4 linked regions of the Homo sapiens genome follow. The protein of the gene in region 2 purifies or fractionates together with the protein of the main gene of each other region. This does not show direct contact. Each region holds a gene or a part of one and is shown on either strand. Other genes may lie near its edges.

Region 1 (7,027 bases), about 97 Mb from region 2:
GGGGAGCCAGATTGCAAGTAGCTCAGTGAGTTGTGTGGGTGAGTTAAGCAACCTTTTTTATTCTTTTTTTTTGAGACGGAGTTTTGCTGTTGGTGCCCAGGCTAGAGTGCAGTCACAGCTTACTGAAACCTCCACCTCCTCATTTCAAGCGATTCACCTGAACTCCTGACCTTAGGTGATCTGCCCGCATCAGCCTCCCCAAGGTGCTGGGATTACAGGCGTGAGCCACCATGCCCAGCTGAGTTAAGCAATCTTTATGTAGAGCTCTCCTTTGAGAAAGAAGTTGGTTGGTTCAAAGAAAGATAAATGGGACAGTGGCTTGGAAGAGGTAATGGAGGCTAGGAAGGTGTTTATCAACAAAGGAAGATGTAGGCTGGGCGCAGTGGCTCACACCTATAATCCCCACACTTTGGGAGGCTGAGATGGGAGGATTACTTGAGCCTAGGAGTTTAAGACCAGTCTGGGCAACATAGGGTGACCCCTGTCTCCACAAAAAATTAAAAAAATTAGCCAGGCGTGGTGGCATGTGCCTGTGGTCCCAGCTACGAGGGGCTGAGGTGGGAGGATTGCTTGAGCCTGGGAGGTCGAGGCTGCAATGAGCCATAATTGTGCCACTGCACTCCAGCTTGGGTGACAGAGTGAGACCCTGTCTCAAAAAAAAAGAAAAAAAAAAAGAAAAGACGTGAATGTGTTTTTAGACCTGAAGGAATGGATTCCATGAAGGGAGAAGGATGAAAGATGGGAAAGGATAAGTGATGGACAAGTTCTTGAGGTAAGATAAGAACACAGGAAGACTAGTCAGTCTTAGAGGAAAGAATGAATGAGCAAAGAAATTTTAAGGCCTGTAATGACACAGGATGGAACACTATAGTCACTGTGGTGTAAGTCATTTGAGATGAGTAGGACAGAAGGAGGACGGCCTGAAGTGAATTCAGATGCCTGGAGGAGTTGGCTAGGTTCTCAATATTCCTTCTGTAGAATGGGATAAAAGGTCAGTTTGAGAAGTGTTGGGGAAGGGGACTTTTAAAGCACTATTTAGAATGCTTCTGAGGCTTTAAAATACTCATTTTTAAAATGGTCCAAAAAATTCATAAATTAGAAGCAGCAGTGGTGAACATTTTTAGGAAAGTGACCCTTGAGAAGTTTATTTTTTGGTTAGTGACCTATTGAGCTTATTTATTAGGTAAGTAGAACATGCTCATTTAAAAAGTTTAAATTGTGCAAAAGACATATGTCAGATTTTTTTTTCTGTCTTCCATAACACTATTTCCTACCCCGCCGCGCTCTGTCTTCCGTAACACTCTCCCCTACCCCGTCGCCACTCTGTCTTCCATAACACTGTCCCCTACTCCACCACACTGTCTCCTACCCCGCCGAGCTGTCTTCCATAACACTCTCCCCTACCCCGCCACGCTGTCTTCATTAACACTATCTCCTGCCCTGCCACACAACTCTGTTTTCCTAGAAGTCACCAGTGTGAATTTTTCCCTTTATCCATATGTACATTTTTTGTTTCTGTGTGTCTGTGTATATACATATGCATAAAAGTGCATAGATAAAATACATATCCTTTTCAAAAAATCTTAAGTGGGGCTCTTGCTATGCATACTGTTCTGTAACTTGTTACTTGGATTAACACTGTATCTTAGACATCTTTCTATGTAGAGCGTATAGATCTTCCCTGTTCTTTTAAATGGCTGTATAATTGTCTATGGAAGGACTTAATTTATTTAACCCATACCTTGTTGATGGCTTATTTGTGTTTTGCTTTTATTTTTTCCTCTTTGTTTTTGCTGCTACAAGCAATGCTTCCTTCCATCTTAGCGGATCTGTCTTTGTACCCTTGAATGAGAAAGTTGCTGGATCAAAGGATGTATTCATTTTGAATTAGGTGTTGCTAATTTTTCCTCCAATGATACACTGATGTATCCCCCCTGCCCACAGTGTGTGGTCATGCCTGTTCTCTCACCCTCTTACCAGTACTGGACATTAATAAGCTTTTAAAGATTTGCTACTCAGGCTAAAAGTGTCTCTTTGTTTTAGGGTGCATTTCCTCATTTAATGAAGTGAAGATTCTTCCTTGTTTAGTGACCATTTGCCTTTATTTTTCTGTGAACTGCTTGTGAATGGCATTTGTCGTTCTTCTGTTGTCTTTTTAGTCTTTTTTCTAAAGCACACTTTGTAGCCCTTTGTTGTAAAATGTTGGAAATATTTTTCCCAGTTTGTCATTTAATCTTTGACTTTGTCTTTCTATTCCCCAGTAGGAGGTACTTAATTTTTATATACTCATATTTGGCAGGCTTTTTCTTTATAGGTTCTTTTGGCTTTAAGTGATACTTTTAAACCCAGCTATTGCTCATTTAAATTAGAACCTTTTCCATGAGAACCACACTGACGATTTCTTTAAATATAGCTTGAAAAAATTTTTCCCCTATTGTTCTTTTAGCTATTGTTCTTGAAAATAATGTGTTTTTTAAAGGAATATCTACAAATAGAAATGGTGATGATATCCAGCAAATGTTTTAAAATGGTGTAAAACCATTTGTACTCCTTTAGTAATTTTTTGGTAAAAAATTTATACTCCTTTAGTAATTATCATTTTTAAAATGATCAGAGGATGCATTTTTTAACTGTTTTATTTTTTGAAAGCTCATTGTTTAACTTATTATATATGTATTCATTTCTACAGAATTATAAGGCTGTCTGCAGAGATTTGAAAAATGGCAACAAATGAAAGTGTCAGCATCTTTAGTTCAGCATCCTTGGCTGTGGAATATGTAGATTCACTTTTACCTGAGAATCCTCTGCAAGAACCATTTAAAAATGCTTGGAACTATATGTTGAATAATTATACAAAGTTCCAGATTGCAACATGGGGATCCCTTATAGTTCATGAAGCCCTTTATTTCTTATTCTGTTTACCTGGATTTTTATTTCAATTTATACCTTATATGAAAAAATACAAAATTCAAAAGGTGAGTATAAGGGACTAGAAATAGAATATTATCATTAATGTTGCTGAATATTTTAAAAGTACATAGGGCTTTGTTTTGTGAGGCTAAAGCAGTGATATCCAATAGAAATATGAAGCCACGTATGTAATTTTAAATTTTCTAGTAGAATACATAGAAAAGGTAAAAAGAAATAAGGAAATTAATTTCATAATGTGTATCATTTAGCTCAATAAATGTAAACTATCGCTGGGTGCAGGGTCCATGCCTGTAATTCCAGCACTTTGGGAGGCCAAGGCAGGAGGATTGCTTGAGGCCAGGAGTTCAAGACCATCCTGGGAAACATAGCAAGACCCTGTCTCTACAAAAAAGATACAAAAATACCCAGGCATGGTGATGTAAGTCCTAGCTACTTATGAGGCTGAAGCAGAAAGATTGCAGCACTATACTCTAGCATAGGCGACAGAGTGAGACCTTGTCTCAAAAAAAATAAGAAATAAATGTAAATTATTATTTCAATCAGTAATCAAATTCTAAAAAATACTTAATGAGATATTTAATAAGTCTTTGCAATTCCGTGTGTATTTTACATTAATTTTAGTCTATCTCAATTTAGACTAGCCATGTTTAAAGTGTTTGGAAGCCACATGTTACTAGTTGCTCCTGAATTGAGCAACACAGTCCTAGGTCATTATTGATAACATTTCAAGAATACTTTGTTAAATTGGGCTTTAAGTAGATGTGATGGTTATCTAACTTAAGTTTATGAATTTTAATGTTTAAGCTAGCTGGAAAGGAAAGGTGTGGTGATTTGCGCATATTTTGCAGTTCACCCCAACTCTATGTTCCAGTAAATCTAAGGGACTGTTAATACACTACGACCTTGATCAGGGCTATTCAAGTTTTTTTTCCCTAAATATATGGTAGGTAGTTCTGCAGCATTCGTATCATCCCAAATAAGGAGGTGATGCTCCTCGTTTCTGGATATTTGCTTCATTGCACTAAATGTTGAGAGGTCGCTATGTACATGACAAGGTGAAATCTCATATGTAGCCTGTGAGCTTGACGTGAGAATTTGGAGTAGCTTATTAGAAAGATGAATTATTTGTTAGAATTTGTAAGCTGATGATAGTTTCTAGTGTTTGCTGTTTACTTTTCATAAAAAGTCATTCCAAACTAAAACTCAGGGGCACACAGTCTTGGTAGAAAGTAGACCATTGAGAGTATTCATCTATGGAAAGTAATTTACATTCACTTAGTACAATTGGCCCTCCATATCCATGGGTTGTTGTATCCATGGATCCAACCAACTGCAGATCAGAAATATTCAGGGGAAAAAAATTGTGTCTACACTGAACATGTACAGTCTTTTTTTTCCTTGTCATTATTCAAAATGACAACTATTTATAGAGCATTTGCATTTTATTAAGTATTATAAGTGCTGTAGAGATGATTTAAAGTATACGAGAGGATTCGTGTAGGTTATGTCAAATACTATGTCATTTTATATCAGGCACTTGAGCATCTTCAGATCTTGGTATTTGCAGAAAGTCCCAGAACCAATCCTCAAAAGATACCAAAGGACAACTGTATATATTTTGGATGGCAGTCTGTACACATTCTCTGTTATCATTCTGTTAGTTTCACAGCCTCTCCCAGAGTCTCACTTTAAGCAGGTATTAATATTAGTCCTCTCTGGGGATAATGCAGGGGTCAGATGACTGTGGACTCCAGGCCAAAGGAGAAAAGAGCAAAGGGTAAAGGCGAAGGAAATAAAAAATAGGAGGGCCAAAGGAGAGTACTCTGTGACCCTCAATTAAGGTCACAGAAGCTCCAAAGTGCTTTTTAGGAAAGCAGCTGCTTTGAAAGGCAGAATTAAGTTTGGACGTCTAAGTTCTAATGCACCTTTAGGGTGATTGTGGCTGCCGTGTTTCACCCAGTGATTTATTTATAGGGCTTATTCATTGTAATTCATTGTATGGCTGGCCAGGCAAAAGCATCCTTTTTCTCCTTCACTGCAGTTTGTAACTGACTCACTGGTTAGAAGTAGTAACCTTTGCAGAGAGACAAAGGACTTTCTCAGGCAAGGGTATATGAGCAGCTTTAAAATATAATGTGGCAAAGGAAAGAATAAGCTGTAGTCTAGTTGGTCAGAGCTAGTTGTTTATGAACAGATTGTAAGGCTGGATAATTTGACTTCAAGTCTGTACTCAGCAAGTCTTTATGTTTCATAACCATTAAAGTCCATGCTTTGAGCATTTTTGATAAAAAATGTGATTTTAAACCAGGACTAGTTTTCACAAGTTAAAGGAGTTTTAAAAGAAACCAAAATATTGGTACAAATTAATTACAGGTTTATGCATTTCGAAGGCAGATACCCTGATTAACATTGAGGGTATCAATTGTTTAAGATAAAATATTTGAGAATTATATTTAACATATGCAATAAATGTTTTTATTCTTAAAATTGTCGAAAAGAATAGAAGAAGTTGGTGGTGGTGATGAAATAGTACTAAAGACTTTCTGCTTTCAAACAGAACAGACAACTGGAGAGCTAATGCACATCCTTGCTAGTTAGGCGAAAATTTCACAGGAATGAAAAAGTAAAGCAGACTTTGCAGGATCTATTTCTTTAAAAAAAAAAAAAACATACATCTTAGTAATTCTCCAAAAATTTTCCTCAAAGATAAATGTACTAAAAATATTATTTCTGAAGTTTGTGGCCCTTGTAAAGGTATTCCTTTATATTAAGTACAGTTATGCATAAAGAAAGTAAAATATGGTAAACTTTCATATTGCACTAGGTATGAATTTGTATTGCTAACTGTCTTTGTAACTAATTTATGTATACTGTAAATGGTATAGCATGTGATTTTATTATAGTTGATTAACTTTGTAATTTCTGTAACTGCATCGATATCCCAGTCTACCTGGAAAATTAAGTCTATTAACCATAGTTGCTGTAGGAGACAGTACTATTGCCAACTGAAGCCTGAATCCTTCATTTATTTTGTCCCCAATTACAGAGTGGAGGTTTAGAGGAGTGGGGTTAGATAATGCTCAGATTAGAAATACAAAGGCAGCTGTCAGATCCTCCCATTTTATTGTTGAAGAAACTGAGTTGTAAACATCACAAGAGCTAGTTAACTGGTGAGTAGCAGCCCTGGTATTAGAGCACAAGTCTCTGGATTGATTCTTAGTTCAGTGCTTTTCCTATTTTTGTCAGGAAGATAACCCTTAAAGAATTTCAAGAACAGAGCTGGATCTGGAGACCTAGATTTTAGTTAGTCCAACTTCTGCTAATAACTGCGTGTGTGACCCTGCCCAAGCTGGTTGACCTCTTTGGGCTTCTGCTGATGCGCAGTAGTTCCCGTACTTTGGATATCGTGGTTCAATTAAAAGAGTTTTGTTGGCGGATACCTGAATTTTTCAGCAGTGACATTTAAAACAAAGCAATAACTGATATTTATTGTCACCATCGTTTTGTTAAGCCCAAAGCACTTTTTTAAGTGCAGTCCTATAAATTGAATACATTTAGTTAGTGTTTGTTTTGTTTTGCTTTGTTTTTTATAATGACTTGCTAAGCAAATGGGTATCCTGATGAGGTCTTAACGAACATCCCATGTTGATCTAACTTTTCTCATTTTGACTTGAATCTGTGAACTCCATAATCAGGACATATCTGTGTACTTCTCAACTCAGAGAGTTTATAATTCTGTCATTGGATTTGAACAAAAGTGCATTTATTTGTTGGAATGAATACCACTGAGTGCCTGGAAGCATCGACTTACTGTGTAAAAGGCTTCCAATGCTTCGTATACAACTTCTTCAATTGTGGACACCCAACAGTAATCTTAGCATATTATATTTCTTCTTCTCTGAAACTTCTGGTAAAAGAAGTGAAGTGAATGATCTGTGGCAGCAAAGACTGGAGAATTATTCATTCCATAGTGTTTCTTAGTTTGTTTGAGATCATCATGGCTAGGCGCATCTGTTAACAGTTTCTTCACCTGAAGTAGTGATAGTAGTTGTCAAGAATTTAGAAGGCAAAGATTCCTGAGTCTTAGTTATATAAA
Region 2 (7,027 bases):
GACTGCTATGATGAAAGATAATTATAACTCCAGGGAAAACAAATAATTCAACTGGTTTGTTTTTAGCCCATACCTTCCCTAAAAACATCCTATTTTAGTTTCCTTAATAATTATCATCCTTACAATGGCTGTGGAACAAAGACAATATTTTAAGACAACATTTGTCTAGACACACCTTTGAAGGATGCCTGAAGATAGTGGTGGTAGGGAGGGATGCAGGGAGGAGGGTATAGTGTATGGGGGAAGAGTAATGAGGGTAGAGCCCACTTGTAATTTGGTAATTGTTAATATCAGTTCTGGGGAATTCTGAACTCTCAAAACAAAACAAACAAAAAATCCAGCTGACCTAACCAACCTACTTACCTACAGACAAACAAAAACCTTCAAAGACCCTAGAATTGATCATAATTATTTGAAAGTGAAATTATGGATATTTTAACAATTCTGATTGATATGGCTTTGGTTTGAAAGTCTTCCAAAATGAATTAATCTCTTTTCCTGATTAATCAAAAGAATGTACTGAATATATAATCAAGATGTCCTTCATGCTTTAGAATTCTCTTTCTGAGCTTTTTCATTGTATAGATCTGTTGGGGCAGACTGGTTATGTATAAAAAAACCGTAGGAAGAAGGTTAGCACTGGCTTCTAAATACATGCTGGAAATTGTCTTTTGAATGCTTCCCTGCCCTATCTTTATTTTCTCATTTATCTCTTTCTATAAAATGAAGTTATTAGAAAAATTCTTTATGAGAGCACTGGTTTTTATTGTATTATAGTAAGACTTCATGCCAATCATTTCTTGGCCAGTATTCCATTTCCCATAGTGTTTGAAATATTCTGATTTTAGTTTGTGGTCTATATTTTCTTCCATGAATAGCACATCTGAACTAGACGTACTAGAAGTTTTTTTAGATATCTTTGAATTTTATACATGCTTAGATAGTATATGTATATTTTTCTTTAATATATGTAAAGAAAATGTGATAATTAAAATGTGTGAAATTTAATGTGTTCACAAAACCTCTAAAAGATCAAGAAACAGTACATTAGAAAATTTCTGTTGTTTCTAGGCCTAATGCCAATGGTTCAAATGTGCAGTTACAGCTGAAATTCAAGTTTCCTCCAGCAGAAGGAGTTAGCATGAGGACTAAAATCAAGGCTAAATTACATCAGATGTTGAAAAACAACATGGCATCCTGGAATGCAGTTCCTGCTTCCATTAAACTCATGGGTATTTGACTTATTTCCATTATTTTCTATTACATAGGTTTTTTCTGGATTATTTTTTTAAAAAGTACTAAAAAGTGAACTAAGAGTTTTAGTAATTCGGGAAAAAAATATGCGTACCTAACTCTGGCACCCCTAGCAATGACTTGGTAGTGGAAAGGGCAGTGCCATGGAATCATTGTCTGAAGAATGATAGGAATGAGGGTTACACTGCAAGCATGGATGTAAGTTTGGAAGGGTTTGGCTATTATGCATGGGAAAGGGGGTGAAGGGTTCTAATTGAATTATCTTCTTGTTTTTTTTTTTGAGATGGAGTCTTGCTCTGTTGCCCAGGCTGGAGTGCAGTGGCGTGATCTCGGCTCACTGAAACCTCTGCCTCCCAGGTTCAAGCAGTTCTCCTGCCTCAGCCTGGGACTACAAGCATCCGCCACCACACCTGGCTAATTTTTTTGTATTTTTAGTAGAGACAGGGTTTTACCATGTTAGTCACACTGGTCTTGAACTCCCGACCTTGTGATCTGCCCACCTCGGCCTCCCAAAGTGCTGGGATTACAGGCATGAGCCACCGAGCCCAGGCAAAGTATCTTTCTTTTCTACTCCTTGCTTTTGTCAGGATCTCATGACAGAAAGCAGATTTAGGGCTTTCTTGGTCTTTCAGTAAGGAGACTGCAGGAGTTAAGAACAATGTTAGGGATGGGAGTTCTTATTGATTTTTGTGAAAAAACTGGAGTAATACCACTTTTAAAGAAAAAAATTGTCTGGAAAATTCCCTAGAAAACAAGGGAATCATGAAATTTTGAGAACTTAAATTTAAATCTTTTTCCTATTGGTAAAAGACTTTAGAGGGAAGGAGAAGAGGAGGAAACTAAAGAAACACTAGAAAATGCTGAGTATACTCTATGGGACACAGAAAGAGAGTAAACAATCTATCCCTCTTTCCCAAAAGCTTCTCACAGAAAAATGATAAGATTTTGCCTCCTTACAGAAAGTGAAGTTTGTAAAGATTGTGAAGGTTTTGCAAAGGTCTTGAAACTGTCACTTGGATTGTTAAAAGTCCAGCTAGGTGATAAGCATATGATTTCAGAGTCCAGTTTCATGGTTCTTCCAGCCAGACAATTAATCCTAGGGTCTTCGAGGGCTTGAAAGGCCAGCAACATCTGCCAGTTACCGCTCTTTTGCCACACAATAAAGACCCCGTTACCAGTGAACCACTAATAAGAAGGGAACCTGAGGTAGAACTTTTCAAGGGAGCAATAAAATTTTTCTGTGAGTAGCTTTTGGGAAAGAGGGATACGTTGTTTACTCTCTTTCTGTGTCCCATAGAGTATAGTCAGCATTTTCTAGTGTTTCTTTAGTTTCCTCCTCTTCTCCTTCTCTCTAAAGTCTTTTACCAATAGGAAAAAGATTTAAATTTAAGTTCTCAAAATTTCATGATTCATTCTTAGTAAGGAGATTTCCCTAAAGAGCAGGATGGGCTCAGTGAAGTATAATTTTAATTGGGACATTTTTCCTTAAAATATATATAATTCTGAGCATTTCAGAGTAAAGAGAATTATCATGGGAAAGAAATCTCTATCATGATCTCTTAAAAGTATTTGTAAGGGGGAGGGGGGAGGGACAGCATTAGAAGATATACCTAATGTTAAATGACGAGTTAATGGGTGCAGCACACCAACATGGCACGTGTATACATATGTCACAAACCTGCACGTTGTGCACATGTACCCTGAAACTTAAAGTATAATAAAAAAACAATTTGTAAGGGTGCCAGCTTCTTACAGCACTGAATATTTTACTTCAATAATCATAAAACTGATTTTTGTTTTTTATTCCCTTTTCTCTTTTTCTAGGCTACCTAGTAGAGATATGGAGAGATGGTTATAATGTAACAAATAAGAGTCAGAGGGGCTGAAAATACCTGAACTACTCCAAATAGTTAAATGTTGGACAATATTGGGTTAGGAAAGTTAGCATTTATGTTCTTAGGTTGAAGTCAATTGCTTGGTGATATTTGCTCAATTTTATATTTTGTTTTGTTTTTCACTTTCAGAAATCAGCAAGGCTGCTTCTGAAATGCTTACCAACAACTGTAAGTTAAGGACCTTTTAATTATAAATTTGATGGACTCACAGGTATTTTCTCATTATTTTTCTATTAAAAATACTTGAAATATGTCATGTGGAAATCCCATAACACGCTTTCCGAATTACTAGATATACCAGATATTGACTTAGAATTTCTCTTTGAAAAACACTGGTCTATTAATTTTAACATTTATTAAAAAATATATAAAAAGTTAAATGAAAATTGATTCCAAATAATAAAACTGTGAGTGAAAAATATCATATTTGAATATGTTAAAATGAGAAAGATTGAAGGAAATGACAATTTAGGATAAGAAGAAAATATAAAACCAGGCTATATAAAATATATTTATTAAAGATAAAAACAGTTCTGCATCTTAAAAATTATTATTATTTTTTGCTTTAGAGGTGGGATGTTGCTATGTTGTGTGGGCTGGAGTGCAATTCACAGGTGCAATTACAGTGGACTATAGCCTGGAACTCTTGGGCTCAAGCAGTCCTCCTGCCTCAGCCTCCCAAGTAGCTGGGCCTATAGGAGCATATCGCTGTCCTGTTACATCTTTTAAATAAATTCTCTTTAGAGTATCATGTTTTCCACAAGATACATTTATGCATTCATTCACTCCATGGATATTTATGGAGTATCTTTTGTTCACATGGTGTCTTACAGACAGCAGTGCATATACTATGCAAGATGTAGACACCAATGAGGCAAAGCTCCTCCTTCAAGAATCTGCTTAGAGAGACAAGAGTTATAACACATAGACACAACAAAAAATAGTGGTTGAAAGATGCTTGAGACTGGAAAAGAGGATAAGTAAGAACCACTCAAACCAAGATAGAATACAGAAACATCACAGGAGTATCTTGTAGGAAAGAAACGTCATCAATTAGGAGAAGTTGAATAATCACTGAAAGGTTTCAAGTAATTTTTAATGATATATTTTTTTATAATGCGTAATCAAAGATACCTGCTCTCGTGTAAATAAATCCTTTCTCTAGGTTGTGGGAGACAAGTAGCCAACAGTATCATAACTGGCAACAAAATTGTGAATGGAAAAAGCTCCCTGGAGGGGGCATGGCCATGGCAGGCCAGCATGCAATGGAAAGGCCGTCACTACTGTGGAGCCTCTCTGATCAGCAGCAGGTGGCTATTATCTGCAGCTCACTGCTTTGCTAAGTAAGTTTGAAAATTTGACTAAATGAAGGATGCTAGGTGCAAAACTATTTTGGATAGTTTGTAGGGGTTAACTTAATGTGTCAAGGTTCACCAAGGCCATATGAAATTTACAATCACATAGAACATTTACAATCACCTGCGTAATTAAAGAGCAGGAAAGGAAATGCATTTAAATTAGAGAAAGGAGAGAAAAGCAAATAGAAGTATTAATTAACATTTTCCAAATAGGTACCTTGGCCTGACATTAAGTGCTTTACTTAACATCATTTCATTTAATCACAACATTCAATTCTGTATGGAAGGTATAGTTAAAACCATTTGAAGATGAGGAAACTAAGTCTCACTCAGGAAAGGTGACAAAACTTGGCTAAGATCACTCAGCTCTTTTTTTTTTTTTTTGAGATGGAGTCTCAATCTGTTGCCCAGGTTGGAGTGCAATGGTGCGATCTCAGCTCACTGCAAACTCTGCCTCCTGGGTTTAAGCGATTCTCCTGTCTCAGCCTCCTGAGTAGCTGGGATTACAGGCACGCACCACTATGTCCAGCTAATTCTTGTATTTTTAGTAGAGACGGGGTTTTACCATGTTAGTCAGGCTGGTCTCGAACTCCTGACCTTAAGTGATCCGCCTGCCTCAGCCTCCCAAAGTGCTGGGATTACAGGTGCGAGCCACCATGCCCAGCCTAGTTCTTAAATAATAGAAACTGAATGTGAATTCAAGTGTGTCTGACTCCAGTTACTAGGTGCTTCCTTGTCTTGCCATCCAGAAGTTTATAATCTAGTTGAGAAAATTTAAATGTCATATATTAAAAGTACGAGGCTGTATAGTATTGTAAACATGACACGTATTACAAAGATAGTAAGTACGATGGAAATTTGAAGAAAGACAGCATATCCATCTGACGTAAAATTTAATCTGGACCCAAAAATTGAGTATATCCAAAGGAAGATAAATTGTTCTACCAAAAAGCCATATGCACTTGTATGTACACCACAGCTCACAATAGCAAAAACATGAAATCAACCTAGATGCCCAGCAACGGTGAACTGGATAAAGAAAATATGGGTCATATACACCATGGAATACTATCCAGTCATAAAAAAGAATAAAATCATGGCCTTTGCAGGAACATGGATGCAGTTGCAGGCTATTATCCAAACTAAATGAATTAATGCTGGAACAGAAAACTAAATACCACATCTTCTTGCTTATAAGTGGGAGCTAAACACTGAGTACATATGGATACAAGGAGGGGAACAATAGACATTAGGGCCTACTTGAGGGTGGTAGAAGGGTGAGGGTAAAAAAAGTAGCTATTGAAACCAAGGGTATGTGGCAATAAGACTAATCCTGGACCCCATCCACTTACGGAATTGAGGACGCTCATGTGATTCCTGACCAAATTAAATGTTCAGAAACTGGATGGAACTGAATAAGCAGGGGAAAACATCAGTGACTCTACTTGAAAAGATCTTCAGAAAGCTGACAAATCTGAGTCCTTAGCATTATTTTTAAGTGACTGCAACATTTACAACAGCTCCATGTCAAAGATAGTTTTCAAAATAGAATTTCAGTGGTTTATAGTTTTGTTTGGGAACCTCATGCCTTAAAATTATGAGATAATCACCACTAAGAACAGTGTTGTGACCCAGCAACTGAGTGTATTCTAATTACATTGTGTCCTCTAGGAAAAATAATTCAAAAGATTGGACTGTCAACTTTGGAATTGTAGTAAATAAACCATATATGACACGGAAAGTCCAAAACATTATTTTTCATGAAAATTATAGCAGTCCTGGGCTTCATGATGATATTGCCCTTGTGCAGCTTGCTGAAGAAGTTTCTTTTACAGAGTACATTCGTAAGATTTGTCTTCCTGAAGCCAAAATGAAGCTCTCAGAAAATGACAATGTTGTAGTTACAGGTTGGGGAACACTTTATATGAATGGTAAGTTTTTTTGTAAAATCATAATAGCTGCATGGGAATAACTATTTAATCAATCAATCAATCAATCAATCAATCATCCCCTCATGCAATTAATCAATCAGTAAATATACTGAAAAGAAAACCAAGTGGTGGGACAAAAAGCATGATGTCAAATTGTCTTCACTTCCTAAAATATCTCTGGGAATGGGAATTGGAAAAATTGAAATTATGTGTTAGGCAGCCAACTATTACAAACACCTGAAAGAGACTAATCTAACCTGGGACTGGCCTGACTCTTGGTGACCAAGAGAGTCTGCTTTATGCTATAGGTAGATATTCTTTGTCCCAGCAAAGTCTAAGATCTGCATAATATGCAGCACTTATTGCTTTTAGGTTCATTTCCAGTGATACTTCAAGAAGACTTTTTGAAGATTATTGACAACAAAATTTGCAATGCCTCATATGCATACTCTGGCTTTGTGACTGATACAATGTTATGTGCTGGATTTATGTCAGGAGAAGCTGATGCATGTCAGGTATGTCTAGTTACATTATCCAGTTGTTTTCTCCCAGTTAATCAAATGGAAGTTTTTATCCACATAAAATTTTT
Region 3 (7,027 bases), about 72 Mb from region 2:
CTACCTTTTAATTTATAAGGAGGGAAGAGGGTGACATTAGCACTAAATGTTCTACCCTATACCATATAAACAAATTCTTGCTGTACTAAAATTATATAACTTAAACAACCATACAGATCAATAAAGAAATAGATAACACCACAAGCCAACTAAACATAATAAACATATGGACAACACTGTACCCAACAATAGCAGAACACACATTTTTCTTAACTGCACATAGAACATTCTCCAGGATAGACCATATTAGACCACAAAACAAGTCTTAATGAATTTTAAAAGATTGAAATCATACAAAGTAAGTTTTCTGAACACAAAGGAAAGGAACTAGAAATCAATAGTAGAAGGAAAACAAGAAAAATTCACAAATATGTGGAAATTAAACAGCACACTCTTGAACAATGAGCCAAATAAGTCTCAAGAAAAGTTAGAAAAACATCTTGAGACAAATGAAAAGGAGAACAAAAGATACCAAAACTTATGGGATACAGTGAAAGCAGTGTTAAAAGGGAAATTTATAGCTTTAAGCACTTACATGAAAAACAAAAGATCTCAAGTTAACAACCTAACTTACACCTTGAGGAACTAGAAAAAGAGCAAATGAAACCCAAAAGTTAGAAGAAAGAGGGAAATAATAAAGATTAGAGCAGAGAGAAACAAAATAGAAAATAGAAAAACAAGAGAGAAAACAAGTGAAATCAAGAGTTAATTCTTCGAAAAGGTCAACAAAAAAATTAACAAACCTTTAGTTAGATTAAGAAAAATGAGAGAAGACTCAAATAACTAAAATTGGTAATGAAAGGACATTACATCTGATTCTACAGAAATAAGAGGGATTATAAGAGAATACGCTGAAGGATTGTATGGCAACAAATTGGATAACCTAGATTAAATGGATACATTCTTAGAAACACACACTCTATCAAGATTAATCATGAAGAAGTAGAAAATCTGAACAGACCTGTAACTGGTAAGGAGATTGAATCAGTAAACAAAAACTTCCCAGCAGATAAAAGCCCAGGACTAGGTGGCTTCACTGGTGAGTTCTACCAAACATTGAAAGAATTAACACCAGTCCTCCTCAAATTCTTCCGAAATATTGAAGAGGAGTAAACACTTCCAGATTCATTCTATGAAGCCAGCATAACCCTGTTATCAAAGCCAAAGACACTACAAGAAAACTACAGAGCAATATTCCAGATGATTATTGATGCAGAAATTCTTAACAAAATACTTGACAACAAAATTCAGCTGCATATTAAAAGAGTTATATACTATGACCATGTTGGATTTATTCCTAAAATTCAAGGATGATTCAACATAAGAAAATCAGTGTACCATGCCACATTTACAATGTAGGGAGGGGAGAACACATGATCATCTTTATTCATGCAGAAAAAGCATTTGACATGATTCAACACTCTTTCATAATAAAAAACACTCAGTACACTAGGAATAGAAGGAAACCACCTCAACATAGTAAAGGTCATATATGAAAAGCCCACAGTTAACATCAGACTAAATGGTGAAAGACTGAAAGCTTTTCCTTTAAGATCTAGAATAAGACAAGGATGCCTGCTTTTTCCACTTCTCCCGAGCCAGAGAAATTAGGGAAGAAAAAGAAAGAAAAAAGACATTCAAATTGAAAAGGAAGAAGTAAAATTATCTCAGCAGATAACATGATCTTATATGTATGTACAAAACCCTAAAGATTTCACGAACACAATACAAAAGTCTGTTAGAAATAATAAATGAAGGCCAGGCATGGTGGCTCATGCCTGTAGTCCCAGCAATTTTGGAGGCCAAGGTAGCCAGATCAGTTGAGTCTAGGAGTTTAAGACCAGCCTGCGCAACATGGCAAAAACCATCTCTACAGAAAAATACAGAACATTAGCTGGGCATGGTGATGCTTGCCTGTAGTCCCAGCTACTCGAGAGGCTGAAGTGGAGGATCACCTGAGTCCAGGAGTTCAAGGCTGCAATGGGCCATGATGGTGCCACTGCACTCCAGCCTGGGTAACAGAGTGAGATCCCATCTCAAAAAACAAACAAATGAATTCACTAAAGTTGCAGGGTAAAAAAACTAGCACACAAAAATTAGTTGCACTTCTGTATACTAACAATGAACAGGAAATTAAGAAAACAATTCCATTTATAACAACATAAAAAAGAATAAAATACTTAGGAATAAATCAAGGAAGTAAAATACTTGTACATGAAAAATTATGAAATGCTGCTGAAAGAAATTAAGAAACAAATATTAATCAATGGAAAGACATTGTGTTCATTGGGATTGGAAGACTTAATAAGATGGAAACACAACCCAAAGTAATCTACAGATTCAGTGCAATCCCTGTCATAATCCTAATAGCACTTTTTGCAAGAATAGTAAAATTCATATAGAATCTCAAGGGACCCCAAATAGCCAGAACAATCTTGGGAAAGAATAAGTTTGGAAATCTCACATCTCTGTTTCAAAACTTATTACAAAGCTATAGTAATCAAATCAGTGTGAGACTGGCATAAAGACAGACATATATATCAATGGGATACAATAAAGAGCCTAGTAATAAATTCCCACATATATGTTCAAATTTTTTTTATAAAAGTGCCAAGACCATTTTGTGAGAAAGGACAGTCTTCTCATGAGATGATATTGGGGAAACTGGCTATCCACATGCAAAAGAATGAGGTTGTAACCTTACCTTAAATCATAGACAAAAATTAACTCGAAATGGATTGAAGACTTAAACATAAGAAAACTATAAAACTGTTAAAAGAAAACATGGAAAGCTTCATGACATTGAATTTGCCAGTAATTTTTATATGACACCAAAAGCACAGACAACAAAAGAAAAAATATATAAATTGGAAAACTCAAAATTAAAAAGTTCTGTGCATCAAAGAACACAACAAAATGAAAAACCTATGCAATGGGAGAAAATATTTGCCAATCATATATTTGATAAGGGGTCAGTATCCAGAATTTGTAGGAACTCCTACAACTCAAAACAAAAACAAAACCTGATTTTTTAAATAGGCAAAGGACTTGAATAGACATGTTTCCCTTGAAGATGTATAAATAGCCAACAAGCACATGAAAAGATACTCAGTATCACTAATCATCAGGGAAATGCAAATCAAACCACAATATGATACTACGCCATATTAGGACCTATTACAATGACTACTATTTAAAAAAACATAATTTTGAACAAATGTTGGCAAGGATGTGTAGAAATTGGAACCCTTGTGCCTTGTTGGTGGGAAGGTAAAATGGTAAAGCCACTGTGGAAAACAGTATGAGGATTCAAAAAAAAATAGAATTATCATATGACCAAGCAATTCAACTTATGGGTATATACTCAAAAGAATTGAAAACAAGGTCTCGAAGAGTTATTTGTATACCCATATTCATTGTAGGATTATTCACAACAGCCAACAGGTGGAAGCAACCCAAGTGTCCACTGACAGATGAATGTATAAACAAAATGTGGTGTATACACACAATGGAATACTGTCCAGCTTTAAAAAGGAAGGAAATTTGATACATGCTACAACATGGATGAAGCTTCAGGGCATTATGCTAAGTAAAATAAGCCAGTTACAGAAAGACCAATACTGTATGATTCCACTTATATGCAGTACCTAGAGTAGTCAAAATCATAGAGATAGATATTAGAAAGATGGTTTCCAGGGGCTGGAGGGAAGGGTAGTGGGGAGTTGTTAAAAGTGTATAGCGTTTTAGTTTTAGAGCATGAAGAAAGTTTTGGAAATTAGTTGTACAACAATGAGAATGTTTTACCACGTGATTTAAAACAATTTTAAATGCATAAATTAACTACTTCATTTTCTTGTAGTATTACCCCAGCATCTGACCTCTCAGAGTTTCAGTACAGACTTGTCAATAGCATACCTCTCTCTAAGAAATGAGATGTCACAAACCTCATAGTTTTGTTTGGAACTTAATAACATGTTGGCACCATTGTGAGACAGATTTCAAGACTGTGAACTTCAGTATCTAATTCTCAATTGTCAGCTGGTGCAGCACTGAAGAATGATAGGATACTGCAGCATTACGCAGAAAGTATTAAGTCTGTATTTCTGATTTTTTTTTTTAAAAAAAAGAACAAATAAAAACAATAGAACTGCATTGTCTACAGAATGCCTTCTAACCAATTGCAGTTCTTTAAAACTCTCTGTTTTTGTTTTGTTGATTAGGAATAGTACCTACGCTATTCATGTCCTGGGCTGTAAAGATTAAATTAGCTAGTTCTTTGATGTAAATATAAGATCATAGAATTTTAAAGAAGAAACAAACTTTCAAGATAAAGTGTTTTCTGAACTGTTTTCTGAAGCATTGGCAACTATTTCTAAGGAAAAGTCAGGAAAAACTATAATATAGAATACAAATAAAACTGGGGTGCTCTGGTTGAGTTAAGGGTAGAGTTCCAGATAGAGCACTACCTGCTTGGCTTCCTCTTAACTCTTTCTTGGCAGCCCAGTACACCAGAGTTCAAACAAAGCACTTAGAATGTTTTTTTTTCAACAAATTAATTGTTTGGAACCTAAAGTGTACATTCATTTGAAAGAGAGGATATGGGTCTAAAGTTATATTAATGTTCATTATTAGTAGTATTATTTTATGTGTTTTTATTTTGCTCAAAAATGATTAATAGCCAGTCAAGCAAAGTGCCTTTTACTATGTAACATGGAAGGCCCTTAGGCTTTTAGAACAATGAAGCTTTTAGAGTTCACAATTAATAAGCAATTTGCAGATATACAAATTTCTGTGCCAATAACTAGGAAATTAAGGAAATAAGCCTATTTCATTGTGTCAAATTGATCCCTTTACATTTACTTCCTATCCCAGTTATACCTCTTTTGTGATTTAGAGAGATCAAATCCTAGTTAATGACAGCACCCATCATTTTTGTCTTTGTCCATAAATATATAAGTAATTATGTAATTGTGGAATTATAGGAATTATATATGCAAAAGAACTTTCTCCATAGCAGTCTACCTGATTACAATAAGCCCTATATTTGTTTGATCTTTTGAATGTGCTTTGATTTTAGTAAAACTCTACCACATTAAATTTGTGATAAAAAAATTTTTGTATCTTTTCTCAGCATTTATATATAAATGTATTTTGGTTTTATAATTATAAAATTTCCATTTTTATGTTTATATACACTTAAGCAACATTATAATAAAAACAATTTCAGTGAACATTTAGGAATCATGATACTTTTAAAGAGGTCTACATATTATTTGTGTTTGATAACTACTATCATCTTTATCTTTAGATTTTTTTTTTATTATACTTTAAGTTTTAGGGTACATGTGCACATTGTGCAGGTTAGTTACATATGTATACATGTGCCATACTGGTGCACTGCACCCACTAACTCGTTATCTAGCATTAGGTATAACTCCCAATGCTATCCCTCCCCCGTTCCCCCACCCCACAACAGTCCCCAGAGTGTGATATTCCCCTTCCTGTGTCCATGTGATCTCATTGTTCAATTCCCACCTATGAGTGAGAATATGCGGTGTTTGGTTTTTTGTTCTTGCAATAGTTTACTGAGAATGATGTTTTCCAATTTCATCCATGTCCCTACAAAGGACATGAACTCATCATTTTTTATGGCTGCATAGTATTCCATGGTGTATATGTGCCATATTTTCTTAATCCATTCTATCATTGTTGGACATTTGGGTTGGTTCCAAGTCTTTGCTATTGTGAATAATGCCGCAATAAACATACGTGTGCATGAGTCTTTATAGCAGCATGATTTAGAGTCCTTTGGGTATATACCCAGTAATGGGATGGCTGGGTCAAATGGTATTTCCAGTTCTAGATCCCTGAGGAATCGCCACACTGACTTCCACAATGGTTGAACTAGTTTACAGTCCCACCAACAGTGTAAAAGTGTTCCTATTTCTCCACATCCTCTCCAGCACCTGTTGTTTCCTGACTTTTTAATGATTGCCATTCTAACTGGTGTAAGATGGTATCTCATTGTGGTTTTGATTTGCATTTCTCTGATGGCCAGTGATGATGAGCATTTTTTCATGTGTTTTTTGGCTGCATAAATATCTTCTTTTGAGAAGTGTCTGTTCATGTCCTTCGCCCACTTTTTGATGGGGTTGTTTGTTTTTTTCTTGTAAATTTGTTTGAGTTCATTGTAGATTCTGGATATTAGCCCTTTGTCAGATGAGTAGGTTGTGAAAATTTTCTCCCATTTTGTAGGTTGCTTGTTCACTCTGATGGTAGTTTCTTTTGCTGTGCAGAAGCTCTTTAGTTTAATTAGATCCCATTTGTCAATTTTGGCTTTTGTTGCCATTGCTTTTGGTGTTTTAGACATGAAGTCCTTGCCCATGCCTATGTCCTGAATGGTAATGCCTAGGTTTTCTTCTAGGGTTTTTATGGTTTTAGGTCTAACGTTTAAGCCTTTAATCCATCTTGAATTAATTTTTGTGTAAGGTGTAAGGAAGGGATCCAGTTTCAGCTTTCTACATATGGCTAGCCAGTTTTCCCAGCACCATTTATTAAATAGGGAATCCTTTCCCCATTGCTTGTTTTTCTCAGGTTTGTCAAAGATCAGATAGTTGTAGATATGCGGCGTTATTTCTGAGGGCTCTGTTTTGTTCCATTGATCCATATCTCTGTTTTGGTACCAGTACCATGCTGTTTTGGTTACTGTAGCCTTGTAGTATAGTTTGAAGTCAGGTAGTGTGATGCCTCCAGCTTTATTCTTTTGGCTTAGGATTGACTTGGCGATGCGGGCTCTTTTTTGGTTCCATATGAACTTTAAAGTAGTTTTTTCCAATTCTGTGAAGAAAGGCATTGGTAGCTTGATGGGGATGGCATTGAATCTGTAAATTACCTTGGGCAGTATGGCCATTTTCACGATATTGATTCTTCCTACCCATGAGCATGGAATGTTCTTCCATTTGTTTGTGTCCTCTTTTATTTCATTGAGGAGTGGTTTGTAGTTCTCCTTGAAGAGGTCCTTCACATC
Region 4 (7,515 bases), on a different chromosome or scaffold from region 2:
TTGTTACTTAGGAGTGGAAAGTTAGGGTTTTCCTTTCCAAATGGCTCTAGGAAGTCAGTGTGAAACGGCCTTAGGTTCCCTGCTCGCAGACCCTGTTCTCCTGCCTAACTACTAGAGTACAGTGTGCACTTCCTAAAAACGGAAGCACTTTTGCTAATAATTTTAACTTGACACAAAAGTAGGGTGATCAGATAAAATACCCTTATGTCCCATGTAATAGTTGGAATGTACTTATACTAAAAAATTATTCATTGATCATCTGAAATTAAAATTTACCTGGGTATACTGTACTTTTATTTGCTATATCCGACAATCTTATACAGAAGTCGTCATGGGAAACTCAGAAAAGGCTGTCCAAATTATTCTGGCAGAGAGGAGTGGAAGAAACAAATGCCATTTAGGTTGGGTGCAGTGGCTCACACCTGTAATCCCAGCACTTTGGGAAGGCAAGGTGGATCACGGGGTCAGGAGATGGAGACCACCCTGGCCAATATGGTGAAACCCCATCTCTACTAAAAATACAAAAATTAGCTGGGCGGGGTGGTGCGTGCCTGTAACCCCAGCTACTGGAGAGGCTGAGGCAGGAGAATTGCTTGAACCAGGGAGTCAGAGGTTGCAGTGAGCCAAGATGGCGCCACTGCACTCCAGCTTGGTGACAGAGTGAGATTCTGTTTCAAAAACAAAAGAAAAAGAAAAAAAGACACAAATGCTGTTAAAAAAAATTTAAAAGACAAAAACAAAAAACTGTGGGGCCCGGCGTGGTGGCTCACGCGTGTAATCTCGGCACTGGGGGAGACCAAGGCAGGCGGATCACCTGAGTTCAGGAGTTCGAGAACAGCCTAGCCTGGCCAACATGGTGAAACCCCATCTCTACTAAACATACAAAAATTAGCTGGGCGTGGTGGCTGGCACCTGTAATCCCAGTTACTTGGGAGGCTGAGGCACAAGAATCGCTTGAACCTGGAAGGCGGAGGTTGCAGTGAGCTGAGATCCTGCCACTGCACTCCAGCCTAGGCAACAGCGAGACTCTGTTGCATTTAAAAAAAAATTGTGGTAAAATATACATAATAGAAAACTTACCGTCTAACCATTTTTAAGTGTACACTTCTGTGACATTAGCATATTTGCATTGTTGTGCAGTCATCACCATTCATCCCAACTTTTTCACCAACCCATACTGAAACCGTATGCCATTAAACAGTAAATCCCCATCCCTCCTTCTGCAGACTCTCTCTACAACCACTGCTCTACTTTCTGTCTCTATGAATATGACAGCACCATAGTATTGGCGGTAAATCAGAGTTGGCAAATGCAATCTGAAGCAGAGGAGAGGAGAGAGTCATATCCCTCAAGTTTTACAGTCCCATTAAAAGTATTAGTACTTTGAGAAAAGGACCGTCACGATCATGGGGAGAATGAAGGAAAAACTCCATTTCTTTCCAGTTTGCAACTGGAATTGTCACTTTCGTCTTTCGGCACGACAGCGCCCAGGCCACAAAAGCCCACAGGGCAGGGCCTCCATTTTGTGGCCTGCGTGGAGGGCGGGGCGGTCTCTCTCCGCCACGCCCCAGCACCGGGTAGACACCGCAGCCACGTAACCAAGGAACCCCGAATGAGGCGTTGGCCAGGTGAGGCCGGATCCGGAAGTAGGGGGACCACTTCGCCCCGCGTACGAGCCCCGCCCCCGGCCCCTCCCACCAGACCCAGGCCGACCTAGATGACGTGTCCGAGTAGGAGTTGGCGAGGTGCGGCCGGGCGGCCGGCCCTGCGCATGCGTGATACTTGCACCGGTCGAGATGGTAGCATGAGTCTGGAGGTCATTTTCTTTGAGAAAGGCTCCGCTTCTCCGGGTTTTTGCTGATGCCGATCCCGGGGGATTGAGGAAACATTGAGCTCTGGAGTGGAAAAGGTTGCAGACTTTTAGACTCCCAAGTCGTTGTAGTCTCAATCTCTAGTGGCTGCGTTACTGCAGGAAGTCACGGAAGCCTCTCCCCTTTCTTAGGCGCATCCTTGGCTGTAAAAGGAGGTTAAAAGCCCCTGGAAAACCTCAGGTTTATTTCAGCTCTGAAAGTCCGGTTCCAAATTTAGATCCAGCACTCTTGTGGCCTGGCCAGTGATGGTCGTGGAGTGCTTTCCCCGCGCCTGCGGTCTCTAGGCTCTGTGGATGTAGAGGTGTGGGATGTAGGAGCAGGCCCTTACCCGTGGAATTCACATATAAATGGGGGAATGAGACAGCAAACAAACAAACGTGATCCTTCCTGATAGTGGTAAATGTGGGATGCCGAGGTTTAAGCAGACGAGTGGTATTAAGGGATTTCAAGGTTTTATAAAATTGATTTTGCCAAGAGTGGAAGCTGAGAGGCTACTGCAGTAAGAAGTCCAGGGGAACTAAGAATTTGGCTTGGACCAGAGTGGTAGCTGTGGGCATGGAAAGTACTGAAAGGATTTAGCCCATAGTTTAGCAGCCCAACCAACGGGACCTGCTGAAGGACTGGAGGTAGGTAGTGAGGAAATGAGAAATTTAGGTTCTTCTCCAGGGTTGGGGCCTGAAAAGAGATGGGCAGCGATGCCGTTTCCTGGAAAACTGGGAGAGGAAATGTTTGGGATGAGGGCAGTGAGATATAATGAAGGTCAAGTTTTTTTTTTGTTTTTTTTTTTTTTTTTTTGAGACGGAGTCGTGCTCAGTCGCCCAGGCTGGAGTGCAGTGGCGCGATCTCGGCTTACCGCAAGCTCCGCCTCCCGGGTTCACGCCATTCTCCTGCCTCAGCCTCCCAAGTAGCTGGGACTACAGGAGCCCGCCACCACGCTCGGCTAATTTTTTTGTATTTTTAGTAGAGACGGGGTTTCACCGTGTTAGCCAGGATGGTCTCGATCTTCTGACCTCGTGATCCGCCCATCTCGGCCTCCCAAAGTGCTGGGATTACAGGCGTGAGCCACCGCGCCGGCCGAAGGTCAAGTTTCAGTGGTGCTAGGAAAAGAAGATAGTGAGCAAAAATGTTAATTTTTGTTTCCTCCTCTTAATATTTGGAGAAAACGTCTGCTTCCTTTTGTTATATTGGAAATCTCCATGACTTCCAAATACAGAATATTTTACAATTTTTCCCTATCCCAAAGTTCAGCGAATATGTTGATTTATTTGAGGGAGAGGACATGAAAGGGAAGCCACCTAGGCACAATTTTCTGCTCAGGCCCTACCAGATTAGTTTTTGTTATCAAAAAAAAAAAAAAAAGTGCCATTCCTTGGGCCAAGCTATGTGCTCAGCACTTTCCCTCCATTTTTGATTTAATCTTCACAACAACCTTAAGATGAACGTTCTTTTCTACTTCCCAGTTCTCTTGATTAACTTGGCTACCCCACTATATGGATCAATTTGCAGGGTCCTAGGTCCCTTTGAAAATCTGATGAAAGTTATAAACCTTACCTGGGAAAAAAGTACAAACACCCGCAAGAACTTGAAATAGGAGTTCACTGGCCCTCAACTTTCTGAGCTTACTATTTCACAAACCTGCCTATTCTTGAATTCTGAGCTGGAGGTCATGATTCTCTCTTATGTACTTTAAGATGATGCACTCTTCCGAAGTTTTTGATTGAACTCTAGTGGCTAACTGAATTGACTTTTTCAGATCACTAAAAAGCTTCTCCTTGAAAAATACTCAGAAGATGCAACACACACACACACACACGTGTGTGCACTTACACACGCGGACACCGTCTCACATCATCAGTGGGAAAAGTGATAGAATCTTGCTAAAGGCTGATCATACCATATTAATCCGATTCGCCAGAACTACTTTCTTCACTGAGCTCTCAGGTATGCTCGGGTCTTCCTTTAAAGAAAATAAATGTCAACGCTACACTCTATCCTACTCCCATTTTCCTCCTCACCCCATTTCCACTCTCCCTTAAAGAGATGTGTGCACACAATCACTGCCCAATGCAAGAATGCACCACTGCATCCAATGCTTGGAAATTGTCCGTGAAGATGCCTTTGAGTAGCTGTCTATTTGAGGATTTGTGGCTAATTCCTCCCCATTTGTTTCCTTAGCCTGCTCCCAACCAGGTGTCTCCAGAACTTTTTCTCTCCGCCACCAACTCCGCCTCCAGACAGACCGCAGGTGCTTTCTGTCATAGGGACTGGCGTGCCGCGGACAGTGTGACAAAGAAACTGTATGATGGATATGAGAACTTCGTAAGACCCAGCAGCAAACGGGGAGCGGCTGGCGAGCGCTCCACAGCCCCCAAGCGTGGGAGCTCTAGATCGGAATTTGTAATTTGGAATTGGAACGTGAGCGCCGGAACAGCTCTCCCAGCAACCACCTCTCCCAGCAACCACCTCAGCTGGCGCGCGGAAAACCCGGAAAGTGGATTTCGCCCCCGCTCCCTCCCGGAAACTCCTCCTGGTGCCTGCGACCGTTCTCACTGAGCATGTGCAGACGGCGGTGCGCATGCTCTGTTGCGGTCCGCTTCGGTTTCTGTTGCGGGACCCGGGGTGTCTCCTAGCGCAACCGGAACTAGCCTTCTGGGGGCCGGCTTCCTTTATCTCTGGCGGCCTTGTAGTCGTCTCCGAGACTCCCCACCCCTCCTTCCCTCTTGACCCCCTAGGTTTGATTGCCCTTTCCCCGAAACAACTATCATGAGCGCGAGGCTGCCGGTGTTGTCTCCACCTCGGTGGCCGCGGCTGTTGCTGCTGTCGCTGCTCCTGCTGGGGGCGGTTCCTGGCCCGCGCCGGAGCGGCGCTTTCTACCTGCCCGGCCTGGCGCCCGTCAACTTCTGCGACGAAGAAAAAAAGAGCGACGAGTGCAAGGTGGGTGAGGCCTGACGAGCCCTCTGATGCACTGTTGGAAGGGGAAGTCGTCCCTATCCGGGGGAGCTGATCCTCGGGTGGGAGCGAGGGAAGGGGGCGTAGCAGCGGGTGGGGTTGAGTTTCCCCAGAAGCTTTTGGGGTCTGCTGGGCTGTGGGTGGGGGGCTCTGAAACAGCCCTTGCAAGGGTAGTTTCTGGAGGACGCAGTGGGCCTCAGACTCGCCTCCCGTCTTGCGGGCCAAGTGGCACGAGCAGCTGTATTCAGTTTTCCTGGAACAGGGACCGTGTGGAGCGCCCTTGGAGTTGGGCTTCACGCCTCAGAGCTTTGGAGTTGGATGTATGCAGGTCCACGCGTGAGTGTTCGCTCACAGCCCTGTAACATGTACGCTGAGGAAGCGGGTGACCGACTCCCTACATGTGAGCAACACTCAGCCTAGTTAACAGTTTCCATTAGCTTTTAACTTCATTGCTTCCTGTTTAATTGCATTTTCCTGGAACCTTCTAGTTGGTTAGGAGAGCTTGTTCTTTCTAGGACTTTGATATCTCGCTTCACAATTAGAAGTTGGTTCCTTATTTGTGGAGTATAACACCCAGAGCCACACAAAGTGCATTAATAAAGAGTTGCTGTAATGGTTGAGGCACTTGATTTCTGAGTTTTAAGTGTAAAAGATTTTAATACACAAAAAAAGATACGAGGTCTCACTATTTTCTCTGAGATGGTTTTAAACACTTAAAAGGGGCAAATGGTGGGAGAAACTGGTGTTTTCCTAGGGCAAGTCTTGAAAACTTTGATCTCTTACAACATTCACACTCAAGGTTTTCAGTTTAATTGCTAGTAAAAGAGGCGTAAATAAAGTAACCTGCTTTTAGGTTATATGGTGTAGGGCTTTACAGTATACATACACAATTATTTCGTTAAGTTTATTTAAAACTTAACATTTGGGGGATGAGGATCTCTTTGAAACCTTTAATGATTTCAACAATTCAAATAATCGTTCAACAAACGTTTACAATCTATAAATAGGCTTATTTATTAAGTTTGATTTTTTTAAGCTGGTGTTTATTACAGTTAGCTTTACTATAGCTGTGAATTTTGAGGTTATTTTAGGGCATTAGATAAGCTTTAAATTTTTCATAACATTTTGCAGTTTCTTTTTAGGTTGTCAGCTATCTTGAATGACATGTTTATACATCTGTGCAAAACCTTGTATCTGAAAAAATATCTAAGGATATTTAAGGTTTACTCAAGTCTGCAGTTAGTGTTTCAGTACTTAAGTTCATACTCTGCAGTGCAAGAAGCTTTCACTCCTTTTTGAGGATTCTGACTGAAAGACTGTTGTTGTGCTTCCAAGTGGAAGATCTAGACTTGCAAGTACACTGGTTTTTCCATTAAATATTTTAGTAACCAACCTTTAAGGCCTAGTGTTTGGTCTTACTTTAACAGCAGTTGTATATTCTATTCCTAGTGCCTCAAAGATGAAAAATATATTTCCTGCCCTCTGGGAACCTCAAAGTAAGGGACATAAGCTTATGAACAGATTATTGAAATCTGATCTGTTACACAGGATGATGTCCAAAGTGTGCTAAAACAAAATGAGGAAACATCAGTGGACTAGAGTCTTTAGGGAAAGCTCTATAGAAGAAGTGACAGGGCCAGGTGTGGTGGCTCACGCCTGTAATCCCAACACATTGGGAGGCCGAGGCGGGTGGATCACCTGAAGTCAGGAGTTTAAGACCAGCCTGGCCAATATGGTGAAACCGCGTCTCTACTAAAAATACAAAAATTAGCTGGGCGTGGTGGCGGGCATCTGTAATCCCAGCTACTCGGGAGGCTGAGGCAGGAAGAATCGCTTGAACTCTGGAGGTGGAGGTTGCAGTGAGCTGAGATCGCGCCATTGCACTCCAGCCTGGGCAACAGAGCGAGACTTTGTCTCAAAAAAAAAAAAAAAAAAAAAAAGAAGAAGAAGTGACATTTGAGATGGACTTAGAAAATGAATAAGTGAAACTTATAGGTGGTCTTCCAGTTAGATGATTGTTTTCTCAACAGGTCCTTTGGTAAGTGGCTAGGTTGTATTCTAGTTATTTTTTAGTTAATCTTGGGAGTCATTTTGGATGTTTAATTTTCATAGGTATAGGGATAAAACAGGCAGAGCAGATCATTTTTCCGAAATGTTTGGATTTTTATCTTTATTGCCAGCTACACTCACATCTGGTTAATGGAAACAACTCTTAGAAGAGCAGGAGGGTGTACTTTCAGCTTTTTTCCTGCGATATGACTAACTGGTGTAGAGAATTTGAAATACACTTTAATATTTATTTTCTTTGCCTTTCAAAGAAGATGCTATAAATAACAGTAAACAGTTGAAATTTGTATTACTTCAATCAGGATGTTAATAATTTATTCTCATCTATTTCGTATTTGTTAAGGAGGACAGTCTTGTACACATTATTCAGAAAAGTGGAAGGAACTTCTTTTAAAAATTAGAAATGAGAGTTGTGAAATGGAAATAATTTTTTCCAAAAGATGCTGTTAAGTTAGTGAATCTGAAGTTGGAGAAATTGGGCAGGTCATTGATACTGTTACCAACAGTTTTTCCATCTGTAAAATAGGGATAATCATATTTGATTATGACATATTCCCCTTGAAAGGTATTTTGCATTTCTTAGAGGAAAAGTGCAATATTTGTCATTGTTGTGATAGTGTAGAGATGA

What was found.
Region 1: the proteins of TMPRSS11B (region 2) and MSMO1 purify together in Homo sapiens (affinity purification with mass spectrometry; 2 studies listed by BioGRID and IntAct, with this or other methods). This does not show direct contact.
Region 3: the proteins of TMPRSS11B (region 2) and CLGN purify together in Homo sapiens (affinity purification with mass spectrometry; 2 studies listed by BioGRID and IntAct, with this or other methods). This does not show direct contact.
Region 4: the proteins of TMPRSS11B (region 2) and TM9SF2 purify together in Homo sapiens (affinity purification with mass spectrometry; 3 studies listed by BioGRID and IntAct, with this or other methods). This does not show direct contact.

The regions. Positions count from the first base shown.
Region 1 is NC_000004.12:165,330,651-165,337,677, forward strand, and holds part of MSMO1 (methylsterol monooxygenase 1), read left to right. Parts: intron 1-2,689; 5' UTR 2,690-2,720; coding exon 2,721-2,975; intron 2,976-7,027. UniProt on the Homo sapiens protein: Catalyzes the three-step monooxygenation required for the demethylation of 4,4-dimethyl and 4alpha-methylsterols, which can be subsequently metabolized to cholesterol.
Region 2 is NC_000004.12:68,228,668-68,235,694, reverse strand, and holds part of TMPRSS11B (transmembrane protease serine 11B), read left to right. Parts: intron 1-1,071; coding exon 1,072-1,232; intron 1,233-3,278; coding exon 3,279-3,317; intron 3,318-4,314; coding exon 4,315-4,492; intron 4,493-6,178; coding exon 6,179-6,438; intron 6,439-6,810; coding exon 6,811-6,953; intron 6,954-7,027. UniProt on the Homo sapiens protein: Serine protease.
Region 3 is NC_000004.12:140,417,646-140,424,672, reverse strand, and holds part of CLGN (calmegin precursor), read left to right. Parts: intron 1-7,027. UniProt on the Homo sapiens protein: Functions during spermatogenesis as a chaperone for a range of client proteins that are important for sperm adhesion onto the egg zona pellucida and for subsequent penetration of the zona pellucida.
Region 4 is NC_000013.11:99,496,973-99,504,487, forward strand, and holds the start of TM9SF2 (transmembrane 9 superfamily member 2 precursor), read left to right. Parts: upstream 1-4,499; 5' UTR 4,500-4,634; coding exon 4,635-4,805; intron 4,806-7,515. UniProt on the Homo sapiens protein: In the intracellular compartments, may function as a channel or small molecule transporter.